Linked DNA regions of Homo sapiens. The protein of the gene in region 1 purifies or fractionates together with the protein of each later gene. This does not show direct contact. Each region holds a gene or a part of one and is shown on either strand. Other genes may lie near its edges.

What was found.
Region 2: the proteins of TBC1D2B (region 1) and CEP120 purify together in Homo sapiens (affinity purification with mass spectrometry; one large-scale study listed by BioGRID and IntAct). This does not show direct contact.
Region 3: the proteins of TBC1D2B (region 1) and PHAF1 purify together in Homo sapiens (co-immunoprecipitation; one large-scale study listed by IntAct). This does not show direct contact.
Region 4: the proteins of TBC1D2B (region 1) and SYNPO2L purify together in Homo sapiens (affinity purification with mass spectrometry; one large-scale study listed by BioGRID and IntAct). This does not show direct contact.

What each region holds. Positions count from the first base shown.
Region 1 is NC_000015.10:78,067,198-78,071,927, reverse strand, and holds part of TBC1D2B (TBC1 domain family member 2B), read left to right. Parts: intron 1-4,730. UniProt on the Homo sapiens protein: GTPase-activating protein that plays a role in the early steps of endocytosis.
Region 2 is NC_000005.10:123,420,604-123,424,602, forward strand, and holds the start of CEP120 (centrosomal protein of 120 kDa), read right to left. Parts: upstream 2,801-3,999; 5' UTR 2,396-2,800; coding exon 2,347-2,395; intron 2,264-2,346; exon of another isoform or gene 1,864-2,263; intron 1-1,863. UniProt on the Homo sapiens protein: Plays a role in the microtubule-dependent coupling of the nucleus and the centrosome.
Region 3 is NC_000016.10:67,133,941-67,137,440, reverse strand, and holds part of PHAF1 (phagosome assembly factor 1), read right to left. Parts: intron 3,274-3,500; coding exon 3,176-3,273; intron 3,087-3,175; coding exon 2,974-3,086; intron 2,814-2,973; coding exon of another isoform or gene 2,692-2,813; exon of another isoform or gene 2,264-2,691; intron 1-2,263. UniProt on the Homo sapiens protein: Plays a regulatory role in autophagic activity. In complex with BCAS3, associates with the autophagosome formation site during both non-selective and selective autophagy.
Region 4 is NC_000010.11:73,653,230-73,657,408, reverse strand, and holds the start of SYNPO2L (synaptopodin 2-like protein), read left to right. Parts: upstream 1-1,379; 5' UTR 1,380-1,486; coding exon 1,487-1,591; intron 1,592-3,102; exon of another isoform or gene 3,103-3,128; coding exon 3,129-3,280; exon of another isoform or gene 3,281-3,370; intron 3,371-3,755; coding exon 3,756-4,179. UniProt on the Homo sapiens protein: Actin-associated protein that may play a role in modulating actin-based shape.

The DNA.
Region 1 (4,730 bases):
CCAGGAACCAAATTGACCAGCACCTTGATTTTGGACATTCCAGCCTTCAGAACTGAGTAAATTTCTGTTGTTTAAGCCACTTAGTCTGTGGTGTTTTTGTTATAACAGCCTGAACCGACTAAGGTAAGGTGCCCAGGTAGACATTTGTTGCATGAATGAATAGAAAATGGTCACCCAGTAAGCACTGGTTTTGGTGTGAGCCCTGACCCTTTAGAAGTGATCAGCCAGAACTCCCAAATATACAGGTGTATTACATGCCATTCTTGCCTCATGTCATGGAGGTGGCAGCCATTCAGTGAATGCCCACTGAATTTAACAGACATCAGGAATCCAAAAGGGGGTTATGACTCACCCTTCCCCAGAGGAGAGAGCTTACAGTCAGTTCCATATTTTCGGGTCTCATATATTTCATGCCCATGGTCAGGACTCCAAGGACACTGTTATAGCAGAGGCAAACTTTTTATGTAAAGGGCCACATACTATTTTAGGTTTTGCGCACTCTGCCATATCTGTCACTATGCTGTTGTAGTACAGAAACAACCACAGAATGAGTATAGCTGTGTTTTAACTTTTAGTTATGGACTCTGAAATTTGGATTTCATATAATTTTCACATTTCGCAAAATATTCTTTTGATTTTTTTCAACCATTTAAAAATGTTAGCTGGGCACAGTGGCTCACTCCTGTAATCCCAGCACTTTGGGAGGCCGAAATGGGAGGATCACTTGATACCAATAGTTCGAGACCAGCCTAGGCAACAAAGTGAGACCCTATCCCTACAAAAATTAAAAAAAACTAGCCAGGTGTGGCTGGATGTGGTGGCTCACGCCTGTAATCCCAGCACTTTGGGAAGCCGAGGTGGGTGGATCACTTGAGGTCAGGAGTTTGAGACCAGCCTGACCAGCATGGTGAGACCCTGTCTCTACTAAAAATACAAAATTAGCTGGGTGTGGTGGCGGATGCCTGTAATCCCAGCTGCTTGGGAGGCTGAGGCAGGAGAATTGCTTGAACCCAGGAAACAGAGGTTGCAGCAAGCTGAGGTGGCGCCATTGCACTCCAGCCTGGGCGACAAGAGCGAAACTCTGTCTCAAAACAAAAAACAAACTAGCCAGGCATGATGGCACATGTCTTTAGTCCCAGCTACTTGGGAGGCTGAGGCAGGAGGACTGCTTGATCCCAGGAGGTGGACATTGCAGTGAGCTGTGTTTGCTCCACTGTACTCCAGCCTGGGTGACAGAGGGAGACCCTGTTTCAAAAAAATAAAATAGCAAAATAAAAATGTTAAAACTGCCCTTGCCTTGTAGATTGTACAGAAATAGGCAGAGACTGGAAATGACCGCAGGCTGTAGTTCACTGACTTGTGTTCTAGGAAGGCCTCAGGAGCTTCCCACTCATTCACTCACTGTGTGTGCTTAGGCACTGGGGATATGACTGGACAAGACAAACAGTCCCTGTCCTCCTGGAGCTTTCAGTAGGTGGGGGGGACAGACGTTAATAAAATATAACAAACACCAACCAGTGCTAGGAAGTTTGAAAGGAAAGATATGCAATGCATGTATAGTTCAGGATCTTGATCTGGTTTATGGTTGGTGGAGGGCTAGGAAAGACTTTCCTGAAGAAGCGACATTTGAGCTGAGACTCAAAGGATGAGTTGGTGTTGACTGGAGCGGGGGTGGGGGTGGAGAGGAGGAAGTCAAGTGTTGTAGGGAGAGGAAATGGCATAAGCAGAGGCCCTTAGGTGGGGGTGCTGGTTGCATGTGGGACTCAAGGAGTGCCTGGTGGCAACTAGGAGTGAAGGGGACATAGCCTTTGGAAGAGGCAGGCCTTGGGCCAGGGCAGGATTTTGGTCTTCATCTTAAGAGCTAGAGTCAGTAAAGAGTTTTAAGCAGGGTTTGACAAATAGGTTTTTGTTTTCTTTCTTCTGCTCCCAGATAGATTGTTTTAGGCCATTTGTGCTGCTGTGAAAAAATACCGTAGACAGGGTAGCTTATAAACAACAGAAATTTATTTCTCATAGTTCTGGAGGCTGGGAAGCCCAAGATGAAGGCACCAGCAGATTTGGTGTCTGGTGAGGGCTCACTCTGCTTTAGAGGTGGTGCCTTCTAGTGGTGTCCTCATAGCAGAAGGGGACAGACAAGTTCCTTCTGGGGCCTCCATCTATGTATGTTTGTATATATGTATGTATGTATCTATCTATCTAAATGTATTTTTCTCCTCAAATTCCTTTTACCACTCTGGCCTCTTTCATAAGGACCCTGATCTCATTCCAGAGGGCTCTGCCCTCATGACTTAAATCACTTCCCACAAGGCTTCCCTCTTAGTACTATCATCTTGGGGACTGGGTCTCAACACGTGAATTTTGCGGGGACACACGTTTGGACTGTGGCACTGATGGTTTGGTCATGCCTAGTATTTTTATGTAACTAAGTTAGAGGATTATCGTGTTGGGTACAAAGGGTTGATGTATTTATATGTTATGTACTGGCAAACAGATTTAAAAGTAGATAAATGCAAAGCTGAACCTATCTTGAGCAGTTGCTTCTTAATTTTGTTTCTGAGTGGTGGGTGTTGTGATGGGTGAAGCTCGCTTTGGCAGGTGTGTGTGTGGCTAGGGCCGGCCCGCCCTGGTGGACTTCCTTTCCTGAAGCATTCCTAATGGCCCCCGGCATTGACTTCTCTCCTGCTGCACTTGCTTTGCTCATATGCACATTACCAGTTTCCTTCCTCTGTGGAGATGACGATTTCTTGAGAAATGGAAGGAGTATTCAGATGTACCAGCTCCCACCTCACGTCTGAGGGGGGTGGACCAGTCTCCTCGATCAGTTGCTTTTACCTTTGAGCCACTGGGGTGCAGACTTCCCACCTCCAGTCAGAACAAAATACAAACAGTAACACCCCCTTCCTCTAAAGAAAGAAAAAGACCCCCACCATTGTAGAAGTGACTGTCAGTTTGGGAGAGGGAGAGGCATTTTCATTAGCAATTTTCGGTTCTGGTATTTATGTAGTGGGATCTTAATGACATGTGATCGGGTGTTCACCCATATCCTGTCAGGCCAGCCCTCAGCTGGGTTTTGTTTGCTTTCACAGAGTGAATGCAATGTGGAAATGGTAAACTGGGTAGTGGTGACTAGTTAGTGGCTTGTAACTAGTGTTCTGTGAAGTACTTTGCCTGGAGTGCTCAGTTCAGTAAACATCTTGGCATTCAGATATGTGAGGCCATGTGAGGGGCAAGAAGCTGAGAGGATCCCTGGGGAGACTGTGGCTTTCGTGATTGTCCAGCAGGCAGTAGCTCACCAGCCAGCACAGGAGGCCCTCAGTCGGCTACAGATTCAGGATGGTTTTGCTCCTGGTCTAGTCTTTGAGTGTCTGCTGTTGTGTCCTACCAGAGCATCACCTCCTAGGATATTTTGTCAGTGTATTTCACTACTGTGCCTTTCATACTTAGAGGATCCCAGCACCTGTTAGATGCTTGTTGGCTAAATGCATGCTTTAAGCCCTCATATCCTCTGTGTGTGTGTGTGTGTGTGTGTGTGTGTGTGTGTGTGGGTGTGGTGTGTGTGCTTTCATTTCATGGTGAAACGGACGTTTGTAGTGTCCATTTACTCAGCAAATATTTTTGAGCATCTATCATATTCTAAGCACTATGCTGCTTGCTGCAAATACAGCAGTGAAAATTTTCCATTGATTTAAGAAACTGTAGTGTTAACTTTAAAAATAGCTTAGCATCTGATATAATCAAAGAATTGTAAGAGTTTTGAAAAAAACATTGAAGAGGCCCATGTTTGTCTGTAGTATTCAGCACTGAGATAAATATCACATGTCTGCAAGTTTTTTGATTCTGAGAAGTCTGGCACTTCTCCATAGTAAAGGAAGGGGAGGGGGCATCCATATGTAAAATACTAATCTGGATATGGCCCAGGGCCAGAAATCTGTGATTTGTGTAATAATTTTGGTGAACACTGCAGAATTGGAGAGTTCTGTATAACTGATTATCAAGAAAGCTCCCTGAAGAAGATGGGACAAGGGAGTTAGTAAATGTTGGTATAATTGTGTAGCTGCTCAAAGACTTAGTTCCTGTTTGATCAGCAACATGTGTTCCCTGTAAGCTGGGAATCACCATCTTCTAATGAGTTTGCATGCTTGGCCATTTTCTTAGCCTTTGCAGAGATTGCCTGGGAGAACTAGAATCCAGTGTGAGAAGTGGGGATTTGGTAGCTGAGATCCTGTGTGCTTCTTCTTTCTGCCCCTTTCCTAGGCCAGTGCTACTGTACCAGCAGACTTTCCTTGAGCAGACTGCCCCTGGGCTGGGACTTGTGTTGCTGAGTGTCAGATGGCAGGCCTGGCCGTGGCCTGGAGGTGGGCAGGCTAATGTTATCAGAGATGTTGATCTTGGATTATAGGAATTATTTCTAGGCAGCAAGCCCAGTATTCATTTTCCTCTCCAGCTCTCTGGTGTTCAGGAGAGGCTGTGCTTGCAGAGAAGGTGGCCAGCTTTCTAAATGGATGCAGCCAACTGGCCATTCACCAAACAGACTTTGTTGAGCAGGAGTCAAGCTTTGCCTCTGGCCTCAGGGAGCTTCTGTGTCTGTTTTGGGTGTGATTAGGGCATTGTCAATAGGTGGCTCTGGGAGCTGGAGGAAGGCATTCATTATTTTTGCTCAAGGGTCATTATCCCAAAGTTAGAACTGGAGAGGCCCTCAGAGATCAGCCCCCTTCCCATGTGTGATACAG
Region 2 (3,999 bases), on another chromosome or scaffold:
CTTTAGGACACTGAAGGACTTTAAGAAAATCAGATTTGCATTTCAGAAAGATCATCCCCAGGGAGTAAAGGAGGAAGTCTAGATGTTTCTGGAAAGGAAGAAAACATTGAAGAATCAGACTACTGAAAAGATTATTACAGTAAGTTAGGTGGATAATGAGGGCCCCTTACCAAGGCACTCACAATGTAAACTCATTCATTCAAAAACTCGTATGTAGAATCTATTATTATTCAGAAAATAAAATCAATTATACTTGATGACCATTTGGAAGTTAGAAATGGAGAGTGAATCCAGGCTGAGGATGACTCCTTGGTTCTTGGCTTAAGGCAACAGCATGGTTATGATGAATGGAAATACAGTACGAACAAGAGAGAAGAATAGTTTGGAGGGAGGACCACATGCTAGTTTTGGGTATGTTTGTGGAAACAACCTAACAGACATCCTTGACTCCAGGTTCTCTTCCTTGCACACTGCTACTAAACTGAACTCAAGAAAAGCATTCTATTTAGGAATATATGCTGCCAACCTATTTCTTGGAACATTAATTCTAAACTGGCTTTCAAGATCCTCTGAGGCCTATTCGCTCCAGTTGTACAAGCTCATTTCTTACCATGACATTTCTAAATATTCACCTTCCTCTACCCTGGTCATCTTGCTGATCTTTTCAATGTTCCACCCACCATGCTCACCCCGGCACAAGCTACTTGGTTGGGAATCAAGCTGGTCAGAAAGACCTTGACTGCTAACCTTTTGAGTTTAAGCCTGAGGCTCTCACTTGAAACTCTGTATTAGGAATATTAACACACATCGCACAGCTCTCCCAATTAGCACTAACAGGCCTCTCTCAGGACCTCATTTTCTGCTGCTCTAAAACTAGCTTCCCCAAATGAATTGCATTTATGTCCTGGGTTGTCAGACTGGCCTGGGTTGTCCATAGAATTCTATTGTCACATATCTAAAGCTCACTTATTATTTAAAGAACTTCAGCCATCCCACCCACCCTACCCTCAAACCTATATTTACAGTACATATCACATATTTTAAATATTATACCCCAACATATTGTGTCCTGTGATCTCCCCACGTGGACAGACCTCTACATCCTTGGAGGGAATGGAGGTATTTGTTTCCTCATAGCATGGTCAGTTATAAGTCTAAAAACTGTTGTTAACCAAATTTTAAGGTTATTTCAGTCCTATGTTTTTAAACAATAAGTAAACTAACAGTTAATAGTGCTCCAAATCTTTATGGCTTTTCTGGTCAGTCTCTTGTTCCAAAATTCAAAGATTAGGATTACAATGTTTCCTTTGCTCTCATCCCTCACACAGTGCCAGGCCTTTATAAAACACTCTCCCATGGGGGAAAAAATGCAGCCAGGCTTCTGCTCTGGCTCAAGATGACTCCTTCTTAACATACTATTCGTAAAGTGTCCTCAATTCACCTGTTATCTCCTATGCCCTCCACTTTCTTGCAAATCTGTTCTCCAACCACACTGAATTTAACCAATGTTTACTGAGTGAATTTAATTAAGCAAGGCAAAACGTGTCTTGCTTTTCCATACTTTAAGTGCTCCCTGCTCTTCTCTTTGCCTGGAATGCCCTTCCTTTTTTCACCTGACAAATTCCTAATCATCTGTAGGACCCCAAAAAATGCCACCTCCTCTAGTGAAACTTCCGCAGTTTCCTTAGACAGAGGTGGTCATTCATTAGGGTCTTCCACATCCTGATGAATTATTTGCTGACACACTCTCCTTGCTACATCCTTAGCTTTTTAGAATCAGGACTGTTTCATTCTTACATTCCCAGCACAGTGTCTGACACTCAATGAGTCCCAATAAACCAATGTCATTCATCCAAAACACACCTTTTAAGGAATGTATAATACACCCTCTTAAGAACTGTAGTCCCCTGAGTCCTCCAGCAAGACGTGTAAAGGGAATTGCCTCCGGAACACTTCTGGAATCGCAGGAAGCCTGTATTCAAGTCAAAGCTCTTACAAGTGCTATTATTGGGAACCGCTGATCAGAACGCGCTTCTCAGGACCACGTTCAGCTCATATATAAAAGCCATCGACGTGCTGCTTTGGATGAAAATCGTTTTCTCTAGATTCTCTGGGGCTACGGCTAGTCACGCTAAATATCACTTATCCCTAATAGCGCTCATATCCCTGGAGAGATTTTTAAATCAATTGCCTAACAGACCTCACTACGTACAACTTTGAACAAGTCTGTGGGGACCACAAAAGCACAGATGACAGGGTTCTTAAGGTTAACAAGGCCTCGGTCCCACACTAAGCTTTTAAAACTCGGGAGGCAGCAGTTGCAAAAGCAAGCCTCAGGCTGCTCACCTTCTAGGATGGACACGACGATGAGCAATTGGTCGGATTTGGAGACCATGGTTGCGGTGAGCGGTCCGGGGGCGAAGGCGGCTGGGGGGAAGTGAGGTCCAGTTGAGTCGCGGGTAATCCGGGACCCCCGGCGGGACCCCCACTGCCCGCCCCCGGTCCCTGATGCCCGGACCCCGCTCCGCAGCCAGGTCCCACCGCCGTCTGCTGCAGCGCGCCCGGCTCCTCTGCCTCGGGCCGCCAGCCCAGATCCTAACTGTGCCCCGACTCAAGGAAAAAGCCACGCTGCAGCCCTGCCAGTCTGCAAGCAGAGACAAGCCCGCCACCCGAGGACCTTTTGCCGCCTGCGTAGCCGCTTTTCAAACGCCCGGGCGGCCGCAGCGGCCGCCGCCGCGCCCAGCTTCCGCCTAGCAACCAGGCCCGCAGGCCCAGTGCCCAGGGGAGGTTGGAGGACAACGGGTGATAGAGACAGAGCAGTCAAGGCTAGAACGCCCGTCAGCGAGCTTCGCCTCCCGCCCTTTTACGCTCTGTTCCAGAGCCCTAAGGAGGACGCCTTCATTACCTCACAGCGCCCTCTGCTAGCCGGACGAGGAGAGGCGGGCGACTTGGTGTGGGACCAGCTGCGCAAGCGCACTACTGCTGTAAACGCTTCCTGAAGCTGCGTAGCCTTTAAGGAGCGTGAGTGTAGCGTATTACCTGCTTTATGCTTCAGCCACAACCTGAGAGTTATATTAGTGGGGATTAAAAAAACAAAAAAACCTAGCTTAGTTGACGTACCCAGTGTCAACACTGCTTAAAAAATTAAATCACAAAAAAATAATGACTTAAATCTAAACTCTAAAGTCCCTAAATCGTGCTCACGCGGCACCTCAAATTTCCGACCTTTGAAAACAAGTAGCTTCAATACGGTAATTACTGTACTTGTTAAAGCTGACGTAAACTCCCCGAGAATTTCCTGTCCCTTAGAAATTACCCCTAAAACAAAAACACTGTCACGTGGGCAATGAAATATAAAGGTTCTTCCACCCCCGATGACAAAGTTATTAGCAAACTCAAAACCAAAAATAAACAAGGCATTGAGGTGCTGTCTGCCGACCCTTTCCCCTTAACGTCTCCCAAATTCAGATTTAAGAAACGGTTCAAGACTTGTAAAGGGAACGGCCTCCTAAACACTACTCAAATTGCAAGAAGCATGTATTCAAGTCAAAGGCAAAGTTCTTTTGGAGGTTATCTAGCTTGAAACTTAAATAACCGAATTGGTTGGAGCGATCGTGGACACTATTAAGTTTGGGAAAAATTCTGCTTCGGAAAACAAAAGTAAATCATAATAAAATAAAGCTGCAGAGATAGCACTAGGTAGTGGACATAAGTGCGGCTTCTCCTATTACTTTCTGGTTTTGTAAATTGAGAAGTTGTTTTGAGAGCAAATATAATATCTCGCTGTTTTCTTTTTCTTCTATTGCTTCCTTGTTTTGGAAATTTAGAAGTTATTTTGAGAGCAAATAATATAATATCACTATTGTTTTCTTCTTCCTCTTCTTTATTCTTCCTTCTTTGCTTTCTGCCCAAAAGAAAAGGAGGAATATGTAGAGATTGGACTAATTACTTCTAAGGCCCTTTCAGGTCCTATCACAGGCATTCTTAAAATGAAGCACT
Region 3 (3,500 bases), on another chromosome or scaffold:
AGGCTGAGGCATGAGAATCGCTTTAACCCAGGAGGCAGAGGTTGCAGTGAGCTGAGATCACACCACTGCACTCTAGCCTGGACAACACAGCAAGACTCTGTCAAAAAACAACAACAACAAAAAACCCCAAAACCATAGCTTAAGCATGACACTCCTTTAAGTGGTTGTTCTGTCTTGGCTAGAAAATCACATTTTAAGAAATTCGTAACGTGAAGGTTGTGAACTGTCTAACTGTTCACAGAAGTGGGCTCAGAGTTCATATACCAGATTCTTTTTTTTTTTTTTTGAGAAGGAGTCTTGCTCTGTCGCTCAGGCTGGAGCGCGGTGGCGCTATCTCGGCTCACTGCAAGCTCCACCTCCTGGGTTCACGCCATTCTCCTGCCTCAGCCTCCCGAGTAGCTGGAACTACAGGCGCCTGCCACCATGCCTGGCTAATTTTTTCTATTTTTTAGTAGAGATGGGGTTTCACCGTTAGTCAGGATGGTCTCAATCTCCTGACCTCGTGATCCGCCCACCTCGGCCTCCCAAAGTGCTGGGATTATAGGCGTGAGCCACTGTGTCCAGCCTATATACCAGATTCTTAATAATTAAGAACCATTTGGGAGGCTGAGGTGGGACGACCGCTTAAGGCTAGGAGTTTGAGACCAGCCTGGGCAACATAGGGAGACCACGTGTCTACAAAAAAATAGAATTAGCTGGGTGTGGTGGTGTGCACCTGTAGTCCCAGTTTCTTCGGAGGCTGAGGCAGAAGGATTCCTTGTGCCCAGGAGTTCAAGGCTGCACTTAGCTATGATGATGCCACTGCATTCCAGCCTGGGTGACAGAGGGAGACCATGTCTCAAAGAAAGAAAAAAGAAGCAAAAAAAAAAAAAAAAAAAAAAAAAAAGGAATCAATGCCTCAGAGACTGATGCAGGAACCCAATTTACGAATAAATGCTGGTTAGGCAATGAGCTCCACGAAGGTTCTCAGCTCTCTTTATGGGAACAAACTCCACGCTGAAGCTCCCAGTCCCGTTAAGCACGATCCACAACCCAAAGCAGCTGAAGTTGGCCAGGCATGGGAATGTCACAAAATGAGGCATGGATCCTGGAGGGACCAGCTACTGAAGGTGGCACTCTTTTTTTTTTTTTTCTGTGAGAAGGAGTTTCGCTCTTGTTGCCCAGGCTCCAGTGCAATGGCGCTATCTCAGCTCACTGCAACCTCCGCCTCCTGAGTTCAAGCGATTCTCCTGTCTCAGCCTCCTGAGTAGCTGGGAGTACAGGCGTGCTTTACCACGCCCAGCTAATTTTTGTATTTTTAGCAGAGATGGGGTTTCATCATATTGGTCAGGCTGGTCTTGAACTCCTGACCTCAGGTAATCCACCCGCTTTGGCCTCCCAAAGTGCTGGGATTACAGGCATGAGCCACTGCACCCGGCCAACTATTTCTTTTTGTTGTTGTTGTTCATGGTTGGCAAAACTCTGGCCAAGGTGTGGCCAAACCACAATTCAACAAGTCCCGTCTGCTTGCCTACGTTGAGAACTTGGCATAAAGGGTAGAAAAAGGAGAGCCAGGCATGGTGGTGCGTGCCTGTAGCCTAGTCAGGAGGTTAAGGCAGGATTGCTTGAGCCCAGGAGTTCAAGGCCACAGTATTCCAATGCACACCGGCCTGGATAATATAGGGAGAAAAGCTGGGTGTAGCGGCTTGCACCTGTAATACCAGCACTTTGGAAAGCCAAGGAGGGAGGATCGATTGAGCCCAGGAGTTCAAGATCATTCTGGGTAACACAGCAAGACCCATCTCCACATAGACAAAAATTAACTGGGCATGGTAGCACATGCCTGTGGTCCTAGCTACTTGGGAGGCTTAGGTGAGATCACTTGAGCCCAGGAGTTTTGAGGCTGCAGTGAGCTATGATTGCACCACTGCACTACAGCCTGGATGACAGAATGAGGCCATCTCTTACAAAACAAAACAAAACAAAACAAAAAAAGGTAGAAAAAAGGGGAGAGCTGGCCAGGTGCGGTGGCTCACGCCTGTAATCCCAGCACTTTGGGAGGCCGAGGTGGGCGGATCATGAGGTCAGGAGTTCCAGACCAGCCTGAACAACATGGTGAAACCCTGTCTCTACTAAAAATACAAAAATTAGCCGGGTGTGCTAATGCGTGCCTGTAATCCCAGCTACTTGGGAGGCTGAGGCAGGAGAATCACTTGAACCTGGGAGGCAGAGGGTGCAGTAAGCTGAGATCGTGCCACTGCACTCCAGCCTCAGCAACAGAGTAAGACTCTGTCTCAAAAAAAAGAAAAAGAAAAAAACAAAAAAGGGGAGAGCAGTAGCACTGCAACCCACAGGATGCATCTCCAGGAAACACTTGGGAACTGTCACAAAGCTATATAAGCACACAGCAGGCCTATGTGCATGCTGAGAGAAGCAGTGCTGTTGCTTATTAAGATTTGCTAATTATAAGACTATGTCCAGTCCCTTGACAAAACTAAACAAAAGCTTTAACCATAAACATCTGCATCATTTGTCTTCTACCAACTATGTGGCAATGGACTGAATGCTTTTGTTCCCCTAAAATTCATATGTTGAAATCCTAACCACCAAGGTGATGGTATTAGAAGGTCAGGGCTTTGGGAGGTGATTACATTATGGAAGCAGAGACCTCAGGATTGAGATCAGTGCCGTTAAAAAACAGACTCCAGGGAGTTAACTAGCCCCTTGCACCATATGAGGATACGGGGAGAAGTTTCTTCTATGAACTAGACTGCAGGCGCATCCAGATACTGAATCTGCCAGTGCCTTGATCTTGGACTTCCCAGCCTCCAGAACTGCAAGAAATAAATTTTTGTTGTTTAGCAGCCACTCAGTTTATGGTATTTTATTATAGCAGCCTGAATGGACTGAGACACACCCTAAGCACGTGGGATTTTAGACTGTCTCAACATGGGTATAATGCGGAATGTACCAACCTCAAAGCCAGTCACTGACCTGCAGCAAGTAGGCGAAGTCGTAAACCTGCAGGTCCAGTTCCATCTCGAAGAACATCTACACTCTCAGCATAGACATTGCCCAGGAAACAGCTCAGAGGCATCATGGGAGCCCTGGGGACAGACACAGAATGAGCAGAGGCTTGGTTCTTTCTCCCAGGCAGCCCAGGCCTTAGCAAGAAACTCATGCTCCTTATACTTACTTGGTATCCTGCAGGCTGTTGCCACTGTAGATGTACATTCGTTTTACAGTTGCTCCATGGGGTATCTGGAGAGAAGCCAGGCCATGGGCAAAATTGGGCTGCAAACAAAGGTCAAGAGTTTTACTTAGGGCACAACAGGTGATGGGACTCAGGCTCTGGTCTTCCCTGTCACTCATGGTCTTCAAGAGCTGCTCAGGTCAAAGGGTCAAAGTACACCCTTAAACCTGGCTCTCTGGCTCTGGGTCAGTAAACTCCCCAAAACCATGTAAGTCCACCTTTAATTCTGCTTGGTTTTCCTTTTCTTTTTTTTTCTTTTTTTTTGAGA
Region 4 (4,179 bases), on another chromosome or scaffold:
TGGGACTATAGGAGCATGTGACCAGGCAGGCCTGGCTAAATTTTTTTGTATTTTTTTGTAGAAACAGGGTCTCACCATGTTATCCAGGCTGGTCTTGAACTCCTGGGCTCAAGCAATCCACCTGCCTCAGCCTCTCAAAGTGCTGGGATTATAGGCATGAGCCACTGCACCCAGCCCAAGTGTTTCTAGGACATAGAGGCATATGCCAAGGCAAACGGTATTTAGCATACACTAGGTGGGCAGCTATTTTATGAAACTCTGTAGCCTTTGATAATCACAGTTATAGCACCATAATGTTATGCCTTGTAACAGAGACATTCTCGTAATGGAAACCTAGAGACAAGTAGAGATTGTATTAACATGGGTTGGTATGTTTATGCACACCTACACACCTTTCCATGACCACGTATGTATTGCAATAGGTAATTTGTTTTTTTATAGTTTTTTGTTTGTTTGTTTGTTTTTTTTTTTTTTTTGAGACGGAGTCTCGCTCTGTCACCCAGGCTGGAGTGCAGTGGCACGACCTCGGCTCACCACAAGCTCTGCCTCGCGGGTTCACGCCATTCTCCTGCCTCAGCCTCCAGAGTAGCTGGGACTACAGGCGTCTGCCACCAAGCCCAGCTAATTTTTTGTATTTGTAGTAGAGACGGGGTTTCCTCGTGTTAGCCAGGATGGTCTCAATCTCCTGACCTCGTGATCCGCCCACCTTGGTCCCAAAGTGCTGGGTTTACAGGTGTGAGCCACCGTGCCCAGCCTATAGTTTTTTGGTTTTTTTTTTTAACTTTTTTTAATAATAAGAAAATAGAGATGGGGGGCCATCTCACGATGTTGCCCAGGCTGGTCTCAAATTCCTGGACTCAAGCAATCCACCCACCTTGGCCTCCCAAAGTGCTAGGATTACAGGCGTGAGCCACCATGCCTGGCCCACCATTTATTAATTAACAGATAAATTTATATAGCGAGAGTGCATTCTTTCCTGGGATCTTGGAGCAAGCCCAGCCATTCTTTGCCAGCTATGGAATTGAAGCCCCTGCTGCTGCCACTTTGAAAGGGTCTTTGGAGGAAAGCAGTTGAGATTAGCCCATGGTCCTATTAGAGAAGGCACAGTTCCTGAAAGGGTGTACATTGGTTATAGAGCCCAGAGAGTTTGTATTCTGAGTCCTGAATAAAAGGCCCATGCAGGAGAATTGGGAACATGGAGGGCAGAAGTTTGTACTATAATTAGCTCTAGGAGTAACACAGAAGGGGGAGGGAGGGGAGTACAAGCGGCATCTATTTTGAGCACATCTGCGATTGACGGGACATGTGTGCTGGACTGTAATGATCCCAGGGCCAAGTTGCCTGCCTGTGGTGTGTGGTGTGGGGGGGAGGCCTGGGGCAGCAGGAGCAGGACAGCCGGACAGGAAGCCCAGACGGGGTTCGAGCACCTCAACTTCTCTCCTGGGGACACTGTTCAAACTCCGGGGGCCATAGGCCAAGCTGAGCGATGGGTGCTGAGGAGGAGGTGCTGGTCACACTATCAGGGGGAGCCCCCTGGGGCTTCCGACTTCATGGGGGGGCCGAGCAGAGGAAACCGTTACAGGTGTCTAAGGTAAGGGAGAGCCCCTGAAATGAGGCTTCAGGGAAAGGGAACCCAAGGGATCCTGGGAAGAGATGTGTGGTGGCATATGGCGGGGGTTGGGGGGGTGGGAGGCTGTGAAGATGGGGTGGGTGGTGGGCAGGGAAGTATGCTCAAGTCTCATAGTGGGAGTAGCGTCTGACCACAGGCTTCCTGTGGGGGTCTATTAGAAAAGAGAATTCGCGGTTTCCAGGGAGCAGAGGAAAAGGAAAGGCTCTGCTTCAGTTCCCTGCAGCACTGTGGTATCAGAGGCCCAGCTCTGGTCATCCAGTGTTTGTTCTCTTGGGTATGTGCCTCTACTCCAAACTCCAGAAATACGGGGAAGGTTCTAATTTCTCTCTGACTAAACTGATATGTGATGAACTGAAACTGCCTCGAACAGCCTAGCCCAGCCCAGCCCTACCCTGCCTCACCCTGCCCTGCCCATGCCTTCAGTGCTCTTTCCCTAGGTCAGATCCTTTCTCTCACTAGGCAAGACTTTTTTAGGTGCTAGGAGGGTTATGGCAAGATCTGGCCTCACAGATGAAGTCATTATCCTTTTGGTTTCACCCTACAGGCTTAGTTTTCCGAACTGTAAAATGTGGGTAATAATAGTACCTGTACCTACTTCATGGAACCATTCTAAGGATTAAATGCAATAATACATGTAGCACAGTGCCCAACACTTAGTAAGAACTCAATAAATGGTAGCCACTACTACTATTATTACTTTGGCATATATACATTTGTGTGTATACATGGCACACATATACCCAAATAATCACAATCTCCCAGAATACCGCTGGACTCCCTCCAACCTGGAGTACTGTTCTAAAATCTTGACTGTGTAATGGCGCCTGGGGTTACAAGGCCTAGTAGAGAATTACCAGCCAATATAGATATTGCCCTTGGAGAAAAAGCTTGTGGAGATAATCACCATTTCTTTCCGTTTTTTTTCTTTTCTTTTTTTTTGCGACAGAGTCTTACTCTGTTGCCCAGGCTGGAGTGCAGTGACATGATGGCTCACTGCAACCTCTGCTTCCTGGGTTCAAGCAATTCTCCTGCCTCAGCCTCCCAAGTATCTGGGATTACAGGCGCACACCACCACGGCCAGCTGATTTTTGTACTTTTAGTAGAGACAGCGTTTCACCCATTGGCCAGGCTGGTCTCAAACTCCTGATCTCAAGTGATCCACCCACCTAGGCCTCCCAAAGCACTGGGCTTACAGGCGTGAGCCACTGCACCCAGCCAATAACCACCATTTCTAGTTACCTACCCCATGCAGTTCTTCCCAAGCCTCTTTCATTCAATGGTTACCCTATTTCCCACCATATGATGTATTTCTTTCTCCAGTCTGTATACTTTCTTCCCTCTAGACAGGCCACTTCAACTGCAGCCACTTCCATGCATCTCCCCACCCTTCTTACCCTGCAAAGTAAAATCCCCTCCTGTGGGTCCTTCCCATCTTTTCCTTTCATTCTATTCCCTTTGGAGCCCCCTCTTACCTACAGTGTCTCCTTCAACATCTCAGATTCGAAGACGGAGCCAGGCTGGCAGAGCAGGACTCCGAGAGAGGGACCAGCTCTTGGCAATCAATGGGGTCTCTTGCACCAACCTCTCCCATGCCAGTGCCATGAGCCTCATCGATGCCTCAGGAAATCAGCTTGTCCTCACTGTGCAGCGGTATGGACCTCTCTCCTCTTCTCTTCCCCTAATCCAGGGCTCCCATTGCCTGTCTCAGCTCTATGTCTCACTGGCCTGGCTTTAGCAACTAACAGGTACCTATTTCTGCTCGTGCGTTTCTGCTGGAGTGCAGATGGTTTGTGTCTGCCTCCCAGAGGGCTTGAATGTATCTGCAATTAAGGGATGGGGATGTCAGTGGGTATTTGACTGATGAGCCTACTTCAACCCCTGGCCTGTTTCCTCCTCATTACATCTTCCTCTAAGCCTATTTCCACTCACAGCCCTTCAAGCACATTTGCCTCCCAGTTTGTCTTCATATCTCCACTCTTCCCGGCCCACCCATTCCAACTGTATGACAGCCTTCTCTCTCCCTTACCTCTTCCCTCCCCCTTACCTCTTCCCTCCATCCCTTCCAGATCTCTCTAGCTGTCAGTACCCAGCCCATCTCTCAAGCTCTGTCATCTTTCCTATCCAGGTTAGCAGACGAGGGTCCTGTGCAATCTCCATCTCCCCATGAGCTTCAGGTGCTGTCACCCTTATCTCCACTAAGTCCTGAGCCCCCTGGTGCTCCAGTTCCTCAGCCTCTTCAGCCTGGGAGCCTTCGTTCACCTCCTGATAGTGAGGCTTACTACGGAGAGACTGACAGTGATGCTGATGGCCCTGCCACCCAGGAGAAGCCCCGTCGACCTCGCCGCCGAGGCCCCACAAGGCCCACCCCTCCGGGTGCCCCACCTGATGAGGTCTACCTGTCTGACAGCCCTGCAGAGCCAGCACCTACTATCCCTGGCCCTCCCAGCCAGGGTGACAGCCGTGTGAGCTCCCCGTCTTGGGAGGATGGGGCAGCCCTTCAGCCACCCCCAGCTGAGGCTCTGCTGTTACCCCATGGCCCCCTCCGACCT